2 linked regions of the Homo sapiens genome follow. The protein of the gene in region 1 purifies or fractionates together with the protein of each later gene. This does not show direct contact. Each region holds a gene or a part of one and is shown on either strand. Other genes may lie near its edges.

Region 1 (7,517 bases):
TCCTTTCTTCTTGGTCCTTGGAGGGGCAGGGCAGTGAGAGACACAGCTCTACCCCCACTACCCAGCAGCTGTTGTCTCTCCCACTTCCAATTCCTGGGTGTGAGGCCCACCTGATCCTCCTTTCCCAAGGAGGCTGTGTGGCCCCAAAGGCCTCCCAGGTCATGCCCTAGTCAGGCATAGCAACTGTGTTGTTCCCTCCCAGATACGAGGGGCAAAGGAGTTAGTGTCCAAGGCTAAGTCCCACGTGCAGCACTCTGTATGGAAAAACAGCCCCAATTAGCAATTCATTCATCCATCCATCCATCCATCCATTCATCCATCCATCCATCTATTCATCCATCCATCATCCATTCATTCCAGAAGCATTTGCTGAGTGAGCACATCCATCTATCCATGCATCCATCCACCCACCCATTACCCATCCAATTATCCATCCATTCCAGAAGCATTTGCCGATCGAGCGCATCCATCCATCCATCCACCCATCCATTCCAGAATCATTTACCAAGCAAACACATCCATCTATCCATCCATCCACCCACTCATTGATTATCCATCTATCCATCCATTATCCATCCATCCATCCCAGAAGCATTTGCCAACAGAGTGCATCCATCCATCCACCCACCCACCCATTCATTATCCATCCATCCATTCATTCTAGAATCATTTGCCAAGCAAACATATCCATCTATCCATCTGTCCATCCACCCATTCATTATCCATCCACCCACTCATTATCCATCCATCCCAGAAGCATCCATTATTCATCCATCCACCCATTATCCATCATCCATCCACCCATTATCCATCCATCCATCCATCATCCATCCATCTATACATTATCCATCCATCTATCCATTATCCATCCATCCATCCATTATCCATCCATCCATCCATTATCCATCCACCCACCCATTACCCATCCAATTATCCATCCATTCCAGAAGCATTTGCCGATCGAGCACATCCATCCATCCACCCACCCATTCATTATCCATCCATCCATCATCCATCCATCCATCCATCTATCCATTATCCATCTATCCATTATCCATCCATCCGTTATCCACTCACCCATCCATCCATCCATCCCAGAAGCATTTGCCAAGCACATCCTGGGAGCCAGGCCCAAGCAGGCGGGCATCCTCCTGGCTCTGAGAGGAGCTTGAGCAGAGCCCACAGACAGCACCACCCTGCTGGCGGGTCACCAAGCCACCAAGCCAGTGCAGGCTGAAGGCTGAGCACACAGAGCACCGGTCTCAGTGTCTGGACATGGTTAGCCGTCCCCACCCGCATGGAAGGAAACTTCTTCTCTCCCCTAAGACAGGCTTTGCAGACTTGGAAAGGGAACGCCGTGTTGCAGGGCTCAGGCCTGGAGCCCCGGCCAGAGCAGATGCGAGCCAGCCTCATCTGGAAATAGCAGCTCTGGTCCCGGCCTCGCTGAGGCACTGAAAACCAGCACCAGGGCCCCGTCCAGCCCGGCCTCGCTGAGGCTGGGAAACAAACACAGGTCTGTAAGGCGCAGCTCCCCAGCAAACTCCCCACCCCTGCCCAGCACCCACAGCGCTCCTGGCCTCTGTCCTCTATTCCAGGACCCCTGTAGCGAGCCTGGCTTGGTCCTGGGTCCTCAGGGGACACTGTCCACCCCCGCTGCCCTGGCAGAGCCTCAGGAATGTGCTTGGTCTCCACAGCCCTCCCCACAGCAATGTCCCAAGGTTAGACCTACCCATGCCTCAGTGACTTCTGAGACACCCGTCCCGCCGCCCAGCAGCCACTCCAGCCTCCAGAGCTGGCCCCAACCTCCAGCCCCAGGCTGAGCCGCCCTCCCCAGAGGTCAGGAAAAGCCTCAGGCAGGGCTCACAGCTGCACCCAGGAGTCACCCAGGGTGACCCCGCTCTCTGGGGCGGGTCACTCCTGCCCACCCACAGCCGGGGACTGTCATTTTCTCAGTACACAAAGGAGAGAAAGGAAAAACAAGAGCGAGAAAGACACAGGGAGAGAAAAGGAAGAGAGAAGGAAAGAAAAAAGAAAGACACAGGGAAAGAAGAGGAAAGAAAAGAAGGGAGGAAGGAGGGAGAGTGGGAGGAGAGGGAAAGAAAGGGAGAGACAGGGAAAGGCAGGAAAGGGAGAGATGGGGAAAGGCAGGAAAGAGAGAGGCAGGGAAAGGCAGGAAAGAAAGGGAGAGACAGGGAAAGGCAGGAAACGCAAGGAAGCAATGGGAAGGGAAAGAAGTGAAAAGGAAGGCGGGGAGGGAGGGACGGGAGAAAGGGAGGAAAAGAGCAAAGGAGACAGGGAGACAGGAAAGAAAAAGGGGAGGGAGGCAAACGGGGAACGGGAGAAAAAGAAAGGAAGGGAGAGGGAATGATGGAGAAAAACAGGAGGGAGGGAGGAGAGAAGAAAAAGGAAAAGGAGGGAGGAGAGAGGAAAGAGGCAGGGAGGTAGGATAGAAAAAGACGGAGGAGAGAAGAAAAAAGAAAAGGAGGCGGGACGCAGTGGCGCACGACTGTAATCCAGCACTTTGGGAGGCCGAGGTGGGCGGATCACCTGAGGTCAGGAGTTCAAGACCAGCCTGGCCAACATGGTGAAACGCCATCTGTCCTTAAAAAAAAAAATAGCCGGGTGGGGTGGCTGGCACCTGTAATCCCAGCTACTTGGGAAGTTGAGGCACAAGAATCTCTAGAACCTGAGAGGCAGAGGTTGCAGTGAGCTGAGATCACGCCACTGCACTCCAGCCTCGGTGACAGAACAAGTCTCCATCTCAAAAAAAAAAAAGGAAAACAGGGAGAAAGGGAGAAACAGAGAGGAAGGAAAGAACAAGACAGGAAAGAATAAAAGGAAGAAGAAAAAGAGAGGCAAAGGGAGAGAGGAAAAATGAAAAAAAAATTAAAAAATGGAAAAGAGACAGCTAGGCGTGGTGGCTCACACACCTGTCATCCCAGCACTTTGGGAAGCCGAAGTGGGCGGATCCCCTGAAGTCCGGAGTTCGAGACCAGCCTGACCAACATGGCGAAACCCCGTCTCTACTAAAAATATAAAATTAGCTGGGCGCGGTGGCGCATGCCTGTCATTCCAGCTACTTGGGAGGCTGAGGCAGGAGAATCGCTTGAACCCGGGAGGCGGAGCTTGCACTCCAGCTTGGGCAACAAGAGCGAAACTCTGTCTCAAAAGAAAAAAAAAACGGAAAAGAGAGAGGGGAGAAAGGGACGAGAGGAAGGGAGACAGGAAATAAAGAGGAAAAGGAAAAGAGAGGGAAGGAGGGAAAGGCAGAAAAGGGAGGAAGGGAAGGAAAGAGGAAAAGGGAAGGAGAGACGGAAAGAGGGAGAAAAAAGAGGGAGGGAGCAAAGAAAAAACAGAGGAAGGGCGGAGGGAGAAAAGCAGAAAAAGGAAGGAAAAAAATGAAAAAGAGGGAAGAAACGTAGCAAGAAAGGAAGGAGAAAGGGAGAGAGAAATGAAAGAAAAAGGGAGGGAGGGAAACGAAGGCAGAGACGGAAAGACGGAGAAAAAGGAGGGAGGCGGGAAAGCAGCAAAAAGCAAAGGCAAGCAGGGAAGGAAGAGACGGGGAGAAAAGGGCGGGCGGGAGAGAGCCGGGAAGGGAGAGGAGGCGGGAGGAGGGAGGAGGGAGGCGGGAGGGAGGGAGGAGGGAGGCGGGAGGGAGGGAGGGAGGGAGGGAGGAAGGGCGGAGTGGGAGGTCGCGAAGGAGGACCCCGGCCGCAGCCCCCGCCGGGCAGACACGGGCACAGACACGGGGAAATAGGGGAGCCCGGGCGGGTGGGCGCGGCCCACGGAACCCCCAGCCCCGGCGCGGAGGGCACCGCGGGGTCAAAGAACGGAGGCCCAGAGAGATCCCCCCCCCACCAACCTAGGCCGGGCGCGGAGGGCGGCGCGGAGTCACGGATCGGCAGCGGGACTGAGCCGCGCCCACGTGGAAGCCGCCGCAGGCTTCGCGCGGGGCCCCCCGGGTGCACGCGGGCAGGGGCCGGGGTCTCCCGACGCACGACCCCGGAGAGTGTTGAAAGGGTCGGAGCTGCCCGGAGGTCAAGGGTCAAGGGTCGGGGGTCGGGGCACCACATGTCGCACATCCCGGCGGGGTCGCCGCGGCCTCCGGGAGAAAGCGGACGACGCACTCGGAGCGAACTGGGCATCAGGGTGGGCTTCTGACTCCGCAGCTGCCCTCCCGCCCGCTCGGGTACTGGCAGCGGCCTGACCTTCACAAGGTCAAGGCTGCCGCGGAACCCCCAGCGGCCCCTACGGCGCATGGGCGGGGCCTGGCTCCCGGCATACCTAGGGGTGCGGGGCGGGACGTCTCCGGGGAGCGCAGCCAATGGGCGCGGTTCGCTGGAGTGCGGGGCGGGACGCAGCGGGATTCCCGGCAGCCCTCAGAGGCGAGGCACGCAGGCTGGTGTGGGGCGGGGCCTGGCGGCGCAGCCAATGAGCGCGGCGCGAGGAGGCGCGGGGGCGGAGAGTGGGCGTGGCGTCGGCGTCTTAGCGGCTGCGCGGTGGCTGCTCCGTCCTTTCGGTCCAGGCGGCGGCAGGGCTGAGCCAGCGACGCCCTCCATTCACTCTCCGCGCCCGTTCTCCGGCTGTCCTCCCGTTCCGCTGCCCGCCCTGCCACCATGACGGAACAGGCCATCTCCTTCGCCAAAGACTTCTTGGCCGGAGGCATCGCCGCCGCCATCTCCAAGACGGCCGTGGCTCCGATCGAGCGGGTCAAGCTGCTGCTGCAGGTGGGGACGCGGGCGCGGCCGCTCCGGGGACTAGGGGACGGGAACCGAGTGGCCGGGTCGGGCGGGGACGTGGGCAGCAGAGCCTTGCAGGCGGGCGCCGGAAGTGGAAGGCCGCGATCGCTTTGTCCACGCGCCGCCGGCTTCCGGGGGCCGCGTCACGTGACCGCTGCTGCAGGGCGTGGCGACGTCCACGCGTGCGCACTGGGCCCGGCGGGCGGGGGGAAATGCGGCACGGATTGGAGGGCGCATGCGCGCTGAGCAGGGCCCATGGACGGACCCTGCGGCTGGCGGGCCTTGACCTTGAGCTCAATCCTGCGGGTCCCCCGGCTGGGACCAACCCTTCCGGTGGATGCCTGGCAGGTGTCTGCTCTTGCTCCCTCCACCGTGAAGGGTAATTCTAAGGCCAATAGGGCAACGAGCCTGCCCGCAGGTGTCCTGGAATAACCAGGATATGGTTATTGGTGGTTCTTACCCCCTTCTTAGCTCATTTGTGCAATTCTGATCCAGAGCAATGCATTTTTTGTCTTTTGGGAGAGGCTTATAGAAAGTAGCATGATGCCTAGGAACATTGCCGCCAGGACGTCCTTGCTAACGTTGTACTCCGAGTGACAGCTCGGTGATGGGAATGAATAGGCTTGGCTGCAAGGACAGGTCACGCCCGCGATCCCAGCGCTTTTGAGAGGCCCGGGGAGTATTGCTTGAGGCCAGGAGTTTGAGAGCAGCCGGGGCCACACAGCAAGACCTCACCTCAAAAAAAATTATTTTAACTTAACGAAGCAGGACGTCCCAGTGCATTGAGAGGCCCGGAGAGGATCGCGTGAGCTCAGGAGTTTGAGACCAGCCTGGGCAACAGAGCAAGACCGCATCTCTAAGATAATTTTTTAAACCTAGTACAGGGTGGCGTGTCCCGGGAGTTTGAGACCAGCCAGGACAACATAGCAAGACCCCATCTCTAAGAAAATTTTTAAAACTTAGCAGGCGGGGTGTCCCCGCACTTTGAGAGGCCCAGGGAGGATCGCCTGAGCTCAGGAGTTTGAGACCAGCCAGGGCAACATAGCAAGACCCCGTCTCTAAGAAAAAGTTTTAAACTTAGCAGGGCGGGGTGTCCCAGCACTCGGAGAGGCCCAGGGAGGATCGTTTGAGCCCAGGAGTTTGAGACCAGCCAGGGCAACGTAGCAAGACCCCGTCTCTAAGAAAATTTTTTAAACTTAGCAGGGCGGGGTGTCCCAGCACTTGGAGAGGCCCAGGGAGGATCGTTTGAGACCAGCCAGAGTAACATAGCAAGACCCCACATCTTAAAAAAACCTTTTTTTTTTTTTTTGAGATGGAGTCTCTCCCTGTCGCCCAGGCTGGAGTGCAGTGGCACGATCTCGGCTCACTGTAGCCTCCGCCTCCTGGGTTCACGCCATTCTGCCTCAGCCTCCCTAGCAGGCACCTGCCACCACACCTTGCTAATGTTCTGTATTTTTAGTAGAGACAGGGTTTCACCGTGTTAGGATGCTCTTGATCTCCTGACGTCGTGATCCACCCACCTCAGCCTCCCAAAGTGCTGAGATTACAGGCATGAGCCACTGTGCCCGGCTTAAAAAATTTTTTTAAACTTAGCAGGGCGGGATGTCCCAGCGCTTCAAGAGGCCCAGGGAGGATCACCTGAGCTCAGGAGTTTGAGAGCAGCTTGGTCATCGTAGCAAGACTCCATCTCTAAAAGTAATTTTTCAACTTAGTGGAGCTTGATGGTTGTGCATCTGTAGACCCGGGTACTCGGGAGACTGAGGCGGGAGGATGGCTTAATCCAGGAGTTGGAGGCTGCAGTGAGGTGAGATCGCACCACTACACTCAAACCCGGGTAACAGCATGAGACCTTGTCTTTTTAAAAAAAGAAAGAGCCGGGTGCGGTGGCTCACGAGGTCAGCAGATCGAGACCATCCTGACTAACATGGTGGAACGCTCGTCTCTACTAAATAAGCAAAAAAATTAGCCGGGCGTGGTGGTGGGCGCCTATAGTCCCAGCTACTCGGGAGGCTGAGACAGGAGAATCACTTGATCACCCCATTGCACTCCAGCTTGGGCAACAAGAGTGACTTGTGTCAAAAAAAGGATGCACCCTGTAGCTGGGATGTTTCTGGGTGGTTGGCCCTGGGTCTGGTCTGAACACCCTCTGCGTCCCCCAGGTCCAGCACGCCAGCAAGCAGATCGCCGCCGACAAGCAGTACAAGGGCATCGTGGACTGCATTGTCCGCATCCCCAAGGAGCAGGGCGTGCTGTCCTTCTGGAGGGGCAACCTTGCCAACGTCATTCGCTACTTCCCCACTCAAGCCCTCAACTTCGCCTTCAAGGATAAGTACAAGCAGATCTTCCTGGGGGGCGTGGACAAGCACACGCAGTTCTGGAGGTACTTTGCGGGCAACCTGGCCTCCGGCGGTGCGGCCGGCGCGACCTCCCTCTGCTTCGTGTACCCGCTGGATTTCGCCAGAACCCGCCTGGCAGCGGACGTGGGAAAGTCAGGCACAGAGCGCGAGTTCCGAGGCCTGGGAGACTGCCTGGTGAAGATCACCAAGTCCGACGGCATCCGGGGCCTGTACCAGGGCTTCAGTGTCTCCGTGCAGGGCATCATCATCTACCGGGCGGCCTACTTCGGCGTGTACGATACGGCCAAGGGTACGTGTGGCTGCCATCGCGAAGTCCCAGAGACGGGCTCAACACACAGACGTTCCCCCAGGGTCCTGTGGGCTGAAGGTCTGAGATAAGGTGTGGGCAGGGCTGGTTCCTCCTGCGGCCTCTCTCCTGGAC
Region 2 (3,680 bases), on another chromosome or scaffold:
GCTCAAGGAAGCAAGGTCCAGTGATGTGAGATCTGAGATTGCATGTGGCACACTGAATGGGACGTCTGGGAATCATGAAACTCTGTACTGTGAAAGTTGTGCACTTCCATGATGGAGCTGTCCCTATTCAGCAGAACCTAGACAGAGGCCAGCATCTAATCCTGTAGGGCAGTGTGCCTCAGACCTGGTTCTCAGCATATTGTCCCAGGGCAGTAGAATGCTTCTGTCTAGCCTTGTATCAGGCTCTAATCACTGGGGACTTGCCTGCATTTTGCAGGAAGAGTAGTATGTGACAGCTATTTGTCTTTCTGCCTCAGATGCACTGGCACCTAGACATGTACAACAGGAACCGTGTGGATACATCCCCCACACCTGTTTCTTGGCATGTCATGTGTATGCAGCTCTTCGGTTTCCTGGCTTTCATGATATTCATGTGCTGGGTGGGGGACGTGTACCCTGTCTACCAGCCTGTGGTGAGTATCCGAGAAGTGCTCCCTTAGGCACGCTTGCTTAGCCCCATTTCCTGAGGGAGTGAAGTCTCTGGGGTAGGAATCCAGTCAATACCAAGCTTGGCTTCCTGGAGTCTTAGGAGATAGGAAGATAGGAGGGCCTTGACCCATTGGCCTGCCACAAGTACCACAGCACTTCTCCACCCCTACTTCTTGGACCAGTCTGGGTGAGTAGATACACTTGAAGACTAGATGAGCAATGAGTGTGTGGAAACCAGCTAGTCACCAGAGTTGCCATTTGGGGATTATATTTATTAACAATATTTCATTAAGTGATCTTTCACAGTAGAGTTAAGGAATCTTGAGTGAAAATCTTATCCTTTGTTGGACTTGTGAAGGGCACGTCCTGTAGTATATTGGAAGCAATTAAGAGTCTACTACAGGCATAGACTTACATTTTGGAGAATGTAAAGGACATAGAAAATGAATTCTCTAGCTTTAAGGAAGTTTAGTTAAGAAAATTTAGATAAGTTACATGAGCAACATTTGAACAGATATATGGGAATTCTGTACAATCTATGTGTATATATGTGTATAGTGAATGTATGTGCTTAGTGGTATGAGTTACTGTCAAGGAGAAGGGCTACCTAGATGCTAACACACACACACACACACACACACACACACACACACACACACACACACGTATGTGCTTAGTGGTATGAGTTACTGTCAAGGAGAAGGGCTACCTAGATGCTAACACACACACACACACACACACACACACACACACACACACACACACACGCTTTGGGTGGTGGGAAGTTGGAGAAAACATTTGGGGCAAGAGAAAACAATGAAGGCGGCCAGGTATGGTGGTTTGCGCCTGTAATCCCGGCACATTGGGAGGCTGAGGTGGGCAGATTGCTTGAGCTCAGGAGTTCAAGACCAGCCTGGGCAACATAGTGAAACCCCGTCTCTACAAAGTATACAAAAAAATTAGCCAGGCATGGTGGTGCGTGCCTGTAATCCCAGCTACTTGGGAGGCTGGGGCACAGGAATCCTTTGAACTTGGGAGGCAGAGGTTGCAGTGAGCTGAAATCACACTACTGCCCCCCAGCCTGGGCAACAGAGCAAGACTCTGTCTCGAAAAAAAAAAAAGAAAACAATGAAGGAAAAGGAGGGTGAGTTAGCTGGAGTAGAATAGAGGTATAGAATCGTTCCTAAATAACCGGCTGCATTGGTTTCCTGGAGACTTGCTAAAAACCCAGATTCCCAGGCCCCACTTCTTGGTGCTCCTAATTCAGTAGCATCACAGTAGGGTTCCAGAAGCGGTATTTTTAACAAGCTCCCAGGTAATTCTGATGTGCACCTAGATTTGGAAATCACTGTGTTAAAAAATATTGTGAGGTAAGTTGGTCAGTTAGGTTGGGCAGCTTTTATTTCATTGCTAAGGGATTTGGACTTGATGGTGTAATAAAGCATTAATTGAACAAATATTTATGGAGCCTGTACTATGTACCAGATGCAGACTGTGCTAGCGGTTGGGGATACAGTGATGACTTGGTCTGCCTCTAGGTGGCAGGGAGCCATTTTGGGTTTTCGAACAGAAAAGTGACATAATGAATGCTGAGTTCTTAGGAAGATTAATCCAGGAGTAGTCTCCAGGATGTACTGGAAGGAGAGAAGCTGAAAGCAGGGAGGCTGCTGTGTTTGCAGTTGGCTGCCCAGTGCTACCTCTGCAGAGACAATCAATGTCCTGAAGGTAGCTGGTATGTCTGTGTGCACTGACACGAGCCTTCCTACCAAGCCCCAGGGGCTCCATGCTGGAGAATGCACGTAGGGCTAGGGTGAGCACTAACTTCACTTCAGGAGAGCAAGGAACAGTGTGGCTCTTCCATTTTTCAGTTCTGTAAGCACATCACCCTTTTCTCCTCCCCTTGAGCTGTGTTCTCTGACAGCTGTTTGTTGGTAAAGCCAGCAGCCCCTAAAGCACGTCCCAGCCTTGTCTCCTCTGTGCTTTCCCCCACCACTGCTGCTGCACGCCTCATTTGCTGGGCCACTTTAGTGGTGGAACCATTAGAGGCTGAGTGACTTAAAGGAGATTGAGTCTGTCTCGACCCCGAGAGAGAGTGGGATGGATGGATGCATCGTCTCATTTAGAAAGTGTTGCCTCTGACTCTAACACACTCTTCTCTCTTTCTTTACCTCCCTCCCTGTCTTCCTCCCTTCCCCTCCTTTCCCTAACCCCCTTCCCTCCCCCTTTCTCCTTCTCTCTCACAGTGTAGGCACCACTTCTCTTACAATTTAGGCTTTCTCTCTGCCTTGGGCTGAGTGAGGAAGAGGAGTGCTGTTCCTGCCTTCCTAGCCCAGCTGGGTCTGACCAGAGGCTACTGTGTACCCATTTACCATGCGTGATTGTTAACTCAGAGTGGGGTGTAGCCAGGTATTGACTGAATGTATGTTCTTGCTGACCTGTGTTTTTTTCTGTAGGGACCAAAGCAGTATCCTTACAATAATCTGTACCTGGAACGAGGCGGTGATCCCTCCAAAGAACCAGAGCGGGTGGTTCACTATGAGATCTGAGGAGGCTTCGTGGGCTTTTGGGTCCTCTAACTAGGACTCCCTCATTCCTAGAAATTTAACCTTAATGAAATCCCTAATAAAACTCAGTGCTGTGTTATTTGTGCCTCATTTCCCCAGGAATAGTCACTGCCTTGAGGAACCTCATCCTTTTCCCTTTTTTTCTGCTTGATGTCTGCTGTCTTCCCTGTTTTCTTTTTCTGAAATTTAAAGGATAAGAGGGTGGGGTGGATGGGGACTTAGGCACAAAATGTTAATTTGTTAATTTCACTTGGGTTGTAAAGGTACTTAAGGGTTTTAGCTGTGTGGAGGTGTTAAGGGTCCCTCCTTTTCCCATTTACAGGGTCAAGGAAGAAATGTTCCTAACTTTCCAAGTTGGAACAAGATTTATTTCACATAAAAAACCTTTCTAGTCTGGGTCTGGTAGCTCACGCCTATTATCCCAACACTTTGGGAGGCTGAGGTGGAAGGATTGCTTGAAGCTCAGGACTTTGAGACTAGCCTGGGCAACATGACGAGACCCCATCTCTGCAAAAAAAAATTTCAGAAAATTCACTGGGCACAGCAGTGCGCGCCTGTGGTCCCAGCTGTGCAGCAGGCTGAGCTGGGAGGATCATTTGAGCCCAGGAGCGTGCAGTGAGCCATGTT

Evidence for each region. Proteins that work in one complex are often made in the same cells at the same time.
Region 2: the proteins of SLC25A6 (region 1) and NDUFB8 fractionate together in Homo sapiens (co-fractionation; 2 studies listed by BioGRID). This does not show direct contact.

What each region holds. Positions count from the first base shown.
Region 1 is NC_000023.11:1,389,109-1,396,625, reverse strand, and holds the start of SLC25A6 (ADP/ATP translocase 3), read left to right. Parts: upstream 1-4,616; coding exon 4,617-4,727; intron 4,728-6,898; coding exon 6,899-7,385; intron 7,386-7,517. Other genes in the region: serine/arginine repetitive matrix protein 1-like, read right to left, coding at 234-254, 1,078-1,496, 3,863-4,284, 4,395-4,618. UniProt on the Homo sapiens protein: ADP:ATP antiporter that mediates import of ADP into the mitochondrial matrix for ATP synthesis, and export of ATP out to fuel the cell.
Region 2 is NC_000010.11:100,523,192-100,526,871, reverse strand, and holds the end of NDUFB8 (NADH dehydrogenase [ubiquinone] 1 beta subcomplex subunit 8, mitochondrial isoform 1 precursor), read left to right. Parts: intron 1-317; coding exon 318-473; intron 474-2,732; coding exon of another isoform or gene 2,733-2,783; exon of another isoform or gene 2,784-2,942; coding exon 2,943-3,035; 3' UTR 3,036-3,132; downstream 3,133-3,680. UniProt on the Homo sapiens protein: Accessory subunit of the mitochondrial membrane respiratory chain NADH dehydrogenase (Complex I), that is believed not to be involved in catalysis. Complex I functions in the transfer of electrons from NADH to the respiratory chain.